Homo sapiens: one gene and its partners. The protein of the gene in region 1 interacts with the protein of each later gene in a pairwise test. Each region holds a gene or a part of one and is shown on either strand. Other genes may lie near its edges. The genes, in order: SPNS3, STRIT1 and PLP1.

Region 1 (3,752 bases):
GGCCTGTGCCTCCCCCTTGTCTGGCCGCACCTCTCCGCCTCGCAGGACTGCCATCAACCAGCCTCTATCTCTGCCCCATGAGATGGTCATTCCTGAGTTCAGGAACTCCAAGTCCGATTTCCTCCCTGGGTCCACAGCAGCCAGCAGGGGGTCCTGCCCACAGTTAGTGCTCAGCCGGTCTTGAATGAATGAATGACAAGAAGAGAAGAGCAAGTGGAGCCTCAATCAGCTGTTGTTATTGTTGTTGTCTTTGTTTGAGACGGAGTCTCGCTCTGTCGCCCAGGCTGGAGTGCAGTGGCACGATCTCAGCTCACCGCAACCTCCGCCTCCCGGGTTCAAGCGACTGTCCTGCCTCAGCCTCCCGAGTAGCTGGGATTACAGGCGTGAGCCACCACGCCTGGCCCCTGATCAGTCTTGAATGAATGAATGAGTGAGTGAGTTAGTGAATGAGTGACAGAAGACAGAGCAGGTTGAGCCCTGAAGCCTGCAAGAAGGAAGGCAGGACGTGTGAGGTTTGCGAGCAGCCTGTTGTCCTAGAAACACAGCCAGCAGGAGCTATTCTTGTCTGGCCCAGGCTACCCTGTCCTCCACCTAGAACCTGGGGGCCTCTGCCTGGAAGTCCTGCCTGCTGTCCTCACCCACCCACCCCTCATTATGTCTCTGGCCCCACCCCCACTGTGCCCTCCCTTAATTTTTAAAAAATATTTATTTATTTATTTATTTTTTATTTTTTATTTTTTTTTTTTTGAGACAGAGCCTTGCTCTGTCGCCCAGACTGGAGTGCAATGGTGGGATCTTGGCTCAATGGTGGGATCTCGGCTCACTGCAACATCCACCTCCCAGGTTCAAGCAATTCTCTGCCTCAGCCTCCCCAGTAGCTGAGATTACAGGTGCCCGCTACCATGCTCGGCTAATTTTTGTAGTTTTAGTAGAGACGGGGTTTCACCATGTTGCCCAGGCTGGTCACAAAGTCCTCACTTCAAGTGATCCGCCCACCTTGGCCTCCCACAGTGCTGGGATTACAGGCCTGAGCCACCGCACCCAGCCCTAAAATATTTTTAATTTTTTAAATAGAGACAGAGTTTCGGCTGGGCGCAGGGGCTCATGCCTATAATCCCAACACTTTGGGAGGCCGAGGCAGGCGGATCACCTGAGGTCTGGAGTTCGAGACAGCCTGGCATACACGGCAAAACCCCGTCTCTACTAAAAATACAAAAACTAGCCTGGCATGGTGGTATGCGCCTGTAGTCCCAGCTACTCGGGAGGCTGAGATAGGAATCGCTTGAACCTGGGAGGCAGAAGTTGCAGTGAGCCGAGATCGCGCCACTGCACTCCAGCCTGGGCAACAGATTGAGACTCTGTCTCAAGAAAAAAAAAAAAGGCCGGGCACGGTGGCTCATGCCTGTAATCCCAGCACTTTGGGAGGCCGAGGCGGGTGGATCACCTGAGGTCAGGAGTTCGAGACCAGCCTGACTAGCATGGTAAAACCCCGTCCCTACTCCTCCTCTACTCAAAATACAAAAATTAGCCGGATGTGGTGGTGCACGCCTGTAATCCCAGCTACTCGGGAGGCTGAGGCAGGAGAATCACTTGAACCTGGGAGACAGAGGTTGCAGTGAGCTGAGATTGCGCCACTACACTCCAGCCTGGGCGACAGAGCGAGACTCTGTCTCAAAAAAAAAAATAAATAAATAGAGACAGAGTCTCACTATGTTGTCCAGGTTGGTCTCAAACTCCTGGGCTCAAGCAATCTTCCTGCCTCAGCCTCCCAAAGTGCTGGAATTACAAGCGGGAGCCACCATGCCCAGCCTGTGTCCCTTCTTAGTTGAGGCTGGATTGGGAACATCAGTTGGTCCTCCCCGATTCGAGCACAGCTGAAAACCACCTCTAGAGGTGAGAACACCAGAGATGGGCCCAGGAGCAGAAAGATGGGTGATGGCTGGAAGGCCACCATGGATCTGCAGCCCCTGGCTGGTGGGCACAGCAGCAGGTACTGCCCAGGGTAGCCATCCCCTCCTCACCTGCAATGATGAACCAGTTCATGTAATTCAGGAGGTTGATGTAGCAGAGGACGGCGGCAGCCACGTAGGCCCTCCACGGGGGCAGGCTCCAGGAGGTGGGCGTGATGGGAGGGGGACACTGCCTGCCTGGCCCTGGGGACTGGCCCTGCAGACCTCCTGGCCCAGGCTCAGGGCACTCCGCTGACATCCCCCCAGCCATGCCAGCCTGCAGCTCTTGGCCTGAGACTGGCGCCAGGATGAAGCAACATTAGCTCAGCACGAAGTCACTTCCTGTGGGGTCCCAGGCTCCAAACCTCAAAGCACCTGCCCTAACTGTTGGGCGTCTTATCGCAGGTTCCTCCTGACCCCACGGCAGCTTCACCAGTGCGATTTCCCCATCGTCAGCCTCTGAGACCTGCTACGGAGGACAAGGGCTCCTGGCACCCCCACCCTGGGGACTGGACAACTCTGTGGTCCCCTTGATCTAGCCTGCAGCTTCAGTGGCTGCAGTGAGGAAGGGAAGCTTCCAGGGCAGGAAATGAGATGAGCCTCCCAGAGTGCTGCTTGCTGTGAGATGGTCTAGCTGCCCGTACGGGACTGTGAACCAATGCCTTGAAGCCGGGGCAAATGAGGAAGGCTGGGCATTGGCCAGGACAGCAGCATTGCACTCGACTGCCAGGCAGGATGAGCACCTACCCAGGATCTAAGGTCCTTCCCGGAAAAACAAAGGTAGCAGAGGGGGCTGCCTACAAGAAGACAGCCTGTGTGCAAAACTCATCAGTGGGGGCTAAATCTGGGGGGAAGACTTCAGTGAGGGGGGAGGGTGTCAGCACGGTCACGAAGCATCTCTTGATAGATTGCTTATTAGTAACAAAAGGAAAAAGAGTAACTATACAGTAGAGGAATCAGACATCTTGACCAAGGGGTTAAAATAAATCACCTGTGAGAGGCAGGAGGGTGTCGTGTGCCTCCAGATGTGAAGGTCTTCGCAGGTCACAGCATCATCTATGTGGCATTCCAGCCAGGAAGGCACAACCGGAATCTCATCATGAGAAGACATCAGCCAGACGCGGTGGCTCGCACCTGTAATCCTAACACTGGGAGGCCAAGACAGGAGGATCATCCAAGCCCAGAAGTTTGTGACCAGCCTGGGCAACATGGTGAAACCCCATTGCTACAAAAATACCAAAAAAATAAAAAATTTTAAAAAAAAATAGCCGGGTGTAGTGGTGTGCGTCCACAGTCCCAGCTACTTGGGAGGCTGAGGTAGGAAGGATCGCCTTAGCCTGGGAAGTCGAGGCTGCAGTGAGCCATGTTCGTGCCACTGCACTCCAGGCTGGGTGACAAAGCAAGACCCCAACTCAAAAAAAAAAATTTTTTTTTTAATTTTTAAAATGAAAAAACATCAGACAAGCCCAAATTGAGAAACACTATTTCTTTAAAGGGACTGTATATTGAAAAATGTCAGAGTCATGAAAGACTAAGAAAGACTGAGGGAGCTAGGCGTGGTGGCTCACGCTTGTTATCCCAGCACTTTGGGAGGCCGAGGCAGGTGGATCACCTGAGGTCGGGAGTTCAAGATCAGCCTGACCAATGTGGAGAAACCCCGTCTCTACTAAAAATACAAAACTAACTAGGCATGGTGGCAGGTGCCTGTAATCTCAGCTACTCGGGAGGCTGAGGCAGGAGAATTGCTTGAACCCGGGAGGCACAGGTTGTGGTGAGCCAAGATCACGCCATTACACTCCAGCC
Region 2 (3,752 bases), on another chromosome or scaffold:
CCACACTGTTTGTTTTAAATATCATTTTTTTCCTTAAGATAATTAGTGTTCATTTGAACTTACTGAATTAACATTTTTTATATTTAAATGAGATCAATAACATTTTTATTTCTTCTCTCTCTTTTGGCCTCAGTTAACCTTTGTTTAACGTATTATTATTTAATATTGAAAAAAATACCCAACTTTGCCAGGTAAGCAAGGGATTTTGTTGCATAAACAATACGTAGTTTTTCTGCTTACCTGACATAGCCAGACATTTTTTCAATATTAAATAATATATTGAGAGAGAGACTGAGGAGAGAGATGACAACTTGACATAAATGATATAAATGTGCCAGATTCTTGGCTGCACACTCTAATCTATAGGTACATTATTTGAGGTAGAAAGTCAAATGTTCTTCTTGCCTGTGAGAGTGGGAGGATTCTGAATTCATATAATAGCAAGGAGTTCAGTGTCACTGAAGTTATCACTGCAAATGGAAGAGTAGAGAAATAAGGGTTTTTAGGTGTCTAAACAAAGAGTTGGGATTTTTATTGTCTAGGAGATGAAGAACTATTGGTGGATTTTTGAGCAGTGATGGAACATGGTCATTTGCAAGGCAATATCACTCTTGGAACTCTGTGGAGATAAATTTGATCAGGCCAGACCTGCCTTTACAGGTCTTAATCTTATGTCAAATTTTTTTTGGGAAGATGCTCACAGGGTCACTCTGCAAAACTTTTCCAGCCAGATCCCCAATTTAAAGTTATTCCAATGAGAATATAGAGAATAGTCTAGGTCAGTTACATAAACCAGTTTGGACTTTGAAAAATGAAATGTCCTATTTTTATACATTGCTAATAAAAACAACAAGCTTATGACTGCTTCCTAAAAATTCTAGGCGACGTCTGTATTGTTTTAGTTTCTAGTACATTTATATTAACACTTTTTGTTTTAGAATAGTTCAAAGAAAGGGGCACCATTTCATTTTATGTTTTCCACCTGTAAAGTAATAAAGAACTGTCTACATTTCATACAGACTTTCATTTCATCTTTATGCGACTCCCATGAGTAGGTATTATTATCCTCATTTTAAAACTAAAGAAGCTGATTCCCAGGTTAAGCAACTTGGCTTTCATTACAGAAAGAGCTGGAATTTGAACCCAAGTCTCTCCAACATCAAAATCCTTTCTTTCTAATATATCACCCTTCTCCTTGATAGCACTTGTATAGGTGGAATGTTGTTTTTCCTCTGTACACCTTCTTTATAGAACATTTTCTTCATGTTACCTAAAGGCATGGTGCAAATTAAAAACCTGCGAATATCTGCATTAGGATAATTCAGCTTACCTAATTGTTTAGGTCATGTAGCCCCTCGTTTCCTCCATAATAATAGAATAAAGAGCCAGAGGAGTTCTGCTTTCCCATGACTTACATCACTCTGCAGACAATTGGCAGCCAGGAGACGGGCAGCTGCCGCAATCTTCAGATTTCTCTCTATTTAAAGTTCAAAGAGACGCTGGATAACAAAAGAAAGAGGTAAGCGTGGCCTGACCTAGCCACCCACCAACAGGAATAATGGCTGAAAAAGGTAAGATTTAAGGCATAGGATTCTCTTGGCAAAAAAAAAAAAAAGGCTTCTTGACTTTGGTTCATTTATGTTTCTTGGTGTTTCCCAGTCACTCTAAAAAATGTGATATCTATGCTAAATGACCATTAACCATATATGTTAGTGTGGCTGCAAAAATGCATTAATTATGTAATCTATGGATCAGGTCTATAGGTTATGAATAATTTTAAAATGATCAACAAAGGAAAAGAGCTTAATTTTGTTAATACTTATTTTGAAAGGTGAGTTAGAAATCAGTTCTCCTGATTTCAATTCTGAGCCAGAATTGAAGACAGTTAAGTTCTGTGTCAGACCTGCTAGTAAATGGCTATGTGAGTTTGCAGAAGTCCCTATACCTCTCTGAGTCTGTTTTCTGACAGTAAAATGAGAATATTGGGCTCAGGCATCTATTCCACACCTAAAATTTTTGTTCCACATCTAACTTTTTTCTGGTTTTTAAACATTTTTTTGTATTTATATTTTATAGTTATATAAAATAATTGATTCCAATTTGTCAAAAAGTTGAATATATACTGTATCTAAGAAATGGTTTTTAAATATTAAACAGGAATTTTTGCTTTGAATCTTGACAATGACCTTGTGAAATATGCATATCATCATCATCCCCATTTTATAGATAAGAAAATGGAGACACAGCAGTTTAGTAACTTGTTCATGATCGCTAAAGAGTGGTGGCACCAGGTGTTTAACCTGGACAGTCTTTTCCAGAGCACAGTGTCCTCAAGAACACTTCCAGCTGTAACTACTTTGATATGCTCAGAACTGGACAAGAGAGAAGCATTTTAGAATTACACTTCATGTTTAAGAGATGTTTTGTTCTTATTTGTGCTAGTAATGTAAGTGACATATGCAAAGTATGTTGTGCTCTTACGTATTTCTACTTCCAAACAATTCCACAGGTATTAGTAAAGTTGAAAACATTAGTGTTAAAAAAACAATGGAATGTATACTTTGGGTGTTAAAATGCACAGTTAGTGCTACTGGTACTATTTTACAAGGAAAGTAAATAATGAGATACTTTTAGGGCTTTGTGATATGTAAATTTTATTAAAATATGCATGTATAAAATATAAATGCACAATTAAAGGGTTAATATTAATTTTCAAATTCTTTGAAATTGGGAAAAATATAAAGCCACATACCTAGACAGTTCAAAAAAATTACTGCTATGTACTTCCATTGTAATGGTACCTTAATTCATAAAAAGGCTTTCGTCCAAATGAGAGTAAAGGGCAACTCATGTTGTTTGCTTTATCCTTAAGCAATACCACATGTCAAGTAAAGAGAAGAGTTTTCCATTTAGTGCTTAATGCCTTATACAAGGTCACAGTGAGATGGAGAAACAAGAAAAGCATGTTGAATTTTGTCAGTTAAGAGAGACTCTAGCATTCTTGGAAAAATTGATTTAAAGTATTAAAATTTATTTCAACTTCAGAAAGTTTGCTTTTATAAAAGTGTCTTCTAATTTTAAATGTGTCTCATCTCCTGATGATTTTATTTTAATAGCATTTTTAAAAATTTCACATTTTAAAGTGATGGAAATTGTAATAGGAGTATAATTGCTAAGAATATGCATTCTCTCTTTTAACTAATGGCATAAGATCTAATTATGCTTTGCAGTTAAGAATATATCTGAGTCCTTAACACAGGGACATTAATTCCATAGAATGTTTTTCTGCGCTCTTTCTAAATCTTTTTGTGTGATGTAGGTGTGGATTTCTGTGTGTATGCCTGTGTATGTTTGCTTGAAAGAACAAGAGTTACATGCAGTGCATACTTTAAAAAAGATACTTGTATAAATTGCTTTTTACAGGTAAGAGTACAAATAGGAGGCACAGAAGGAATCATATATAACAAACGCCATTTATGTGTGTGTTGGATTATTACTGCCCATTGATTCAGGTTCAGTGCTGGTTGTTATACTGAACAATTTTTAAACAATAGAAATTCTTTTCTGTAGTCAAGAATGGTTACATAATGTATGATACTTTCCTTTTCCCTGTGATATTTAAAATTACATTCAGCTATTGAGGCCAAGGACAGTTCTCAATACCTTTCCTTGTGTTATAATTATTTACTTTAGTGGGAATTGCCTCAGAGTTGTATTAGATTGTTTTTTATATAAATAGCTGCTGTATATGT
Region 3 (3,652 bases), on another chromosome or scaffold:
TGGTATACATGTGTGTATGTGCACATTTGTACACATGCATGCATGTGCGTGTGCACACACACAGACACACCCATGGGCCAGCTCTGAAAAGACACTCTTCCCAAGCACGTTTGCAAAGTTCATGCTGAGTAAACTCAGCCTCCACTCACAGCAGCACAGCTACAGATTGCTTCTTATAGAGGCCAAGTTTCCTGGCAGCAATGCTTTAGTTCTTGGAAAAGGAAGTTCTGCTCCAAATGTTAGCTGCTTACTTTGTTTGGCTTGGGCTTCTGAGGCTCATCTTTGGTGTGACACTCTTTGAAGGCCAAGAAAGGGCTGTCATTTCAGGGGATGGTGGGTAATAGGACTCACTCCTTTTGTGTCTCTGAGAACAGAGGCAAATGCCTCTACCTCGATTTTCCCATGACAGAGATAATTTGATCTTTCCAAATCTGTTCACACTGATGCAATTCAGCCATGTAAATCACTAGGTATTCATGCTCTCTGGGCTAAAAACAAACTGTAACTAATGTTAACAGAATCAGGAAAAGGAGTCCCCTTTCCCTGGTACCCTATAGAAAAGTGAGTGTGGCTTGGAGAAATGCTTGAATACAAAAATCCAAGCCTAAGTAATTAATACAATTTATTTTTATTGTACAAGCTGTCACAACCTGCTTATTCAAAAATAGCAGCTTCCCAGTACATTTGCTGAGTATTTGTGTGTGTGCATGTGTATACTGTGTTTATAGATATATAAAATCAGTGGGTATATATACATATATTTATATATATACATACATATGAATTAAGACATTTTTTCTGAAGAGCTTAACATTCTCATTTCTTCTACATTTTAGGGATCTGGCCGAGAGGCCAGAGGAAGCCATTCTTTTCCTCATCTAGTCAGTCATCTACTTGGCATTTGCTAAGGTTCACTCCATATGACATCTTAGAGCATGGGACTAGTACTTGGAACACAGCTGCTTTCAGAGCCTGTGACTTCTTGTGTGCCTCTCCTGTTTCTCAGCAACACTGGCATAGGGCCTGGGATACCAGGTCTGGGGATCTCAGGGACTCTTAGCACTTTAAGACACATGTGTTCCCAGGCCCTGGTGTGTTCCTCTAGTGCCAGAAAGATGTTTCATGCTTTGCTGACTTTGTATAAAGTCTGTTTGTAGCTGTTTTGACAGAATCTCAGCGTATAACTGAGGGTGGGGACATTAGCCAAGCTGCATTATAGGAGGACAAAACTGCCATACAAAGTGTCCAAAATCATTAAGCCTGCATTTTTATTATTGGGAGTAATATCAAACCTCCTATTTTCCAATTTTCATTTCTTGTCCTGTGCTAGCTCCATCCTGTTTGGACTGCTCCTCCCATATGTAAACTAAGAAGAATCAAGCATTCTTTGCAACAAATACACACGATGCTCAAAAATGTCCAGGAGCATCCAATTTCCAAAGTTTCCTCCACCTGGAATGCTCTTCATGCTAAAATCCTGTCTGACAATACCAGCATCTCTGGCCTGCACTCATCCCTTCCTGGAACTCCAAGTGCATTTACCCTCTGTTACCACTTACTTGGCTGCCTGAATTGTTAGTTGAAAATATTAGGTCTACTTAGCTAATTCTTCCTCAGGAAATTAAAGACTCCCATATGGCAGAGTCTGTGTCTTTTCTCTCTTCATATCCCGTATAACACCCAGCATAATGCTGGGCATATAGTGAGTATTCCATAAATAGTTGATGAATGACTAAAATAAGCAAGCAAACAAACAGACTAGAACAATAAGAAAGAAGGGACTGATTTCATAATCTCTCTGGCTTGCTATTTGAATTGCTGAATTATTATTATTTATTAAATATTTTTTAAATTCTGGCAATAAAAGGTAAGGATTTATTTTCTTTCTTTCTTTTTTTTTTTCTTGAGACAGAGTCTCGCTCTTACTGCCCAGGCTGGAGTACAATGGCGCAATCTTGGCTCACGGCAACCTCCGCCTCCTCCTGGGTTTAACAGATTCTCCTGTCTCAGCCTCCTGAGTAGCTGGGATTACAGGCATACGCCCATGCCCGGCTAATTTTTGTATTTTTAGTAGAGACGGGGTTTTGCCATGTTGGCCAGGCTGGTCTTGAACTCCTGACCTCATGTGATCCACCTGCCTCAGCCTCCCAAAGTGCTGGGATTACAGGCATGAGCCACCGTGCCCGGCCAAAGATTTATTTTCAAGAATGAAACAAAGTAAGGATTCTGGGTCAATCTCACATGCTGAAAGCCAAAACCTCTAGCCGCTCCTGCTTTTTGACTTCGGAGTGCCCACTATCTCCGAGCCTGTGAGCACAGGGCCTGGCAGAGGGGTTTGAGTGGCATGAGCTACCTACTGGATGTGCCTGACTGTTTCCCCTTCTTCTTCCCCAGGCTTGTTAGAGTGCTGTGCAAGATGTCTGGTAGGGGCCCCCTTTGCTTCCCTGGTGGCCACTGGATTGTGTTTCTTTGGGGTGGCACTGTTCTGTGGCTGTGGACATGAAGCCCTCACTGGCACAGAAAAGCTAATTGAGACCTATTTCTCCAAAAACTACCAAGACTATGAGTATCTCATCAATGTGTAAGTACCTGCCCTCCCACACAGACCCATCTTTTTTTTCCCTCTCTCCATCCTGGAGATAGAGAACTCTTCAGTACCTTAGTAACTAGCAGGGGACTGGGGTGGAGCCAGACCGGATTCCCGAGTCTTCCCTCTGTGCAGATCTCTCCTGCTCCACATTCGAAGCCCATTCAGAAAGGAGGGGTCTGCCTGCCTGCCTGTCAGCCCCTCCCACCCCCGCCCCCTTGTTTTCTTACACGTGTTCTGACTTCTGCTAGGTGTGGTTCATATTGCCCAAGTTGGAGCCTCCAGCGTAGTAGGTATGGAGAAGCCAAGGGAGGCACTAAGCCTCTCCTGTTCCTAGAACAAGTTAGGCTCCTGTTCCTTCACCCACCTTTCTTCTTGTCTAGCTCCCTACTCCTGTGAGTTAGCATGTCTGAAGGGTGGGGCAGGGAGAGTAGGTCCCTGGTTCTCCAGGTCCCAGGGTAAGCAAGGTGTGGCGGGAGGGGCATATGTTTCTGGTCACATACACCCTGTCTTCACTTATTTCAACAAAGATAAGGTGAAAGCATGCAGGAGGAACCTGGTGATTCCTCTAGAAAATCCCTAGCCTTGTTAAGGTGCTCGCTCTGGTGTATACCTCACTTATGTCGGGAAAGAAGCCAGGTCTTCAATTAATAAGATTCCCTGGTCTCGTTTGTCTACCTGTTAATGCAGGATCCATGCCTTCCAGTATGTCATCTATGGAACTGCCTCTTTCTTCTTCCTTTATGGGGCCCTCCTGCTGGCTGAGGGCTTCTACACCACCGGCGCAGTCAGGCAGATCTTTGGCGACTACAAGACCACCATCTGCGGCAAGGGCCTGAGCGCAACGGTAACAGGGGGCCAGAAGGGGAGGGGTTCCAGAGGCCAACATCAAGCTCATTCTTTGGAGCGGGTGTGTCATTGTTTGGGAAAATGGCTAGGACATCCCGACAAGGTGATCATCCTCAGGATTTTGTGGCAATAACAAGGGGTGGGGGAAAATTGGGCGCGAGTCTGTGGCCTCGTCCCCACCCAAGGCTGGGTCCTCTCTAGGGGCCTGGCATTTGA

Evidence for each region.
Region 2: the proteins of SPNS3 (region 1) and STRIT1 interact in binary tests that used the Homo sapiens proteins (3 or more experiments, as listed by UniProt).
Region 3: the proteins of SPNS3 (region 1) and PLP1 interact in binary tests that used the Homo sapiens proteins (3 or more experiments, as listed by UniProt).

The regions. Positions count from the first base shown.
Region 1 is NC_000017.11:4,432,436-4,436,187, reverse strand, and holds the start of SPNS3 (protein spinster homolog 3), read right to left. Parts: upstream 2,249-3,752; 5' UTR 2,221-2,248; coding exon 2,022-2,220; intron 1-2,021. UniProt on the Homo sapiens protein: Sphingolipid transporter.
Region 2 is NC_000003.12:155,291,439-155,295,190, reverse strand, and holds the start of STRIT1 (sarcoplasmic/endoplasmic reticulum calcium ATPase regulator DWORF), read left to right. Parts: upstream 1-1,507; 5' UTR 1,508-1,558; coding exon 1,559-1,571; intron 1,572-3,752.
Region 3 is NC_000023.11:103,783,188-103,786,839, forward strand, and holds part of PLP1 (myelin proteolipid protein), read left to right. Parts: intron 1-2,394; coding exon 2,395-2,581; intron 2,582-3,277; coding exon 3,278-3,539; intron 3,540-3,652.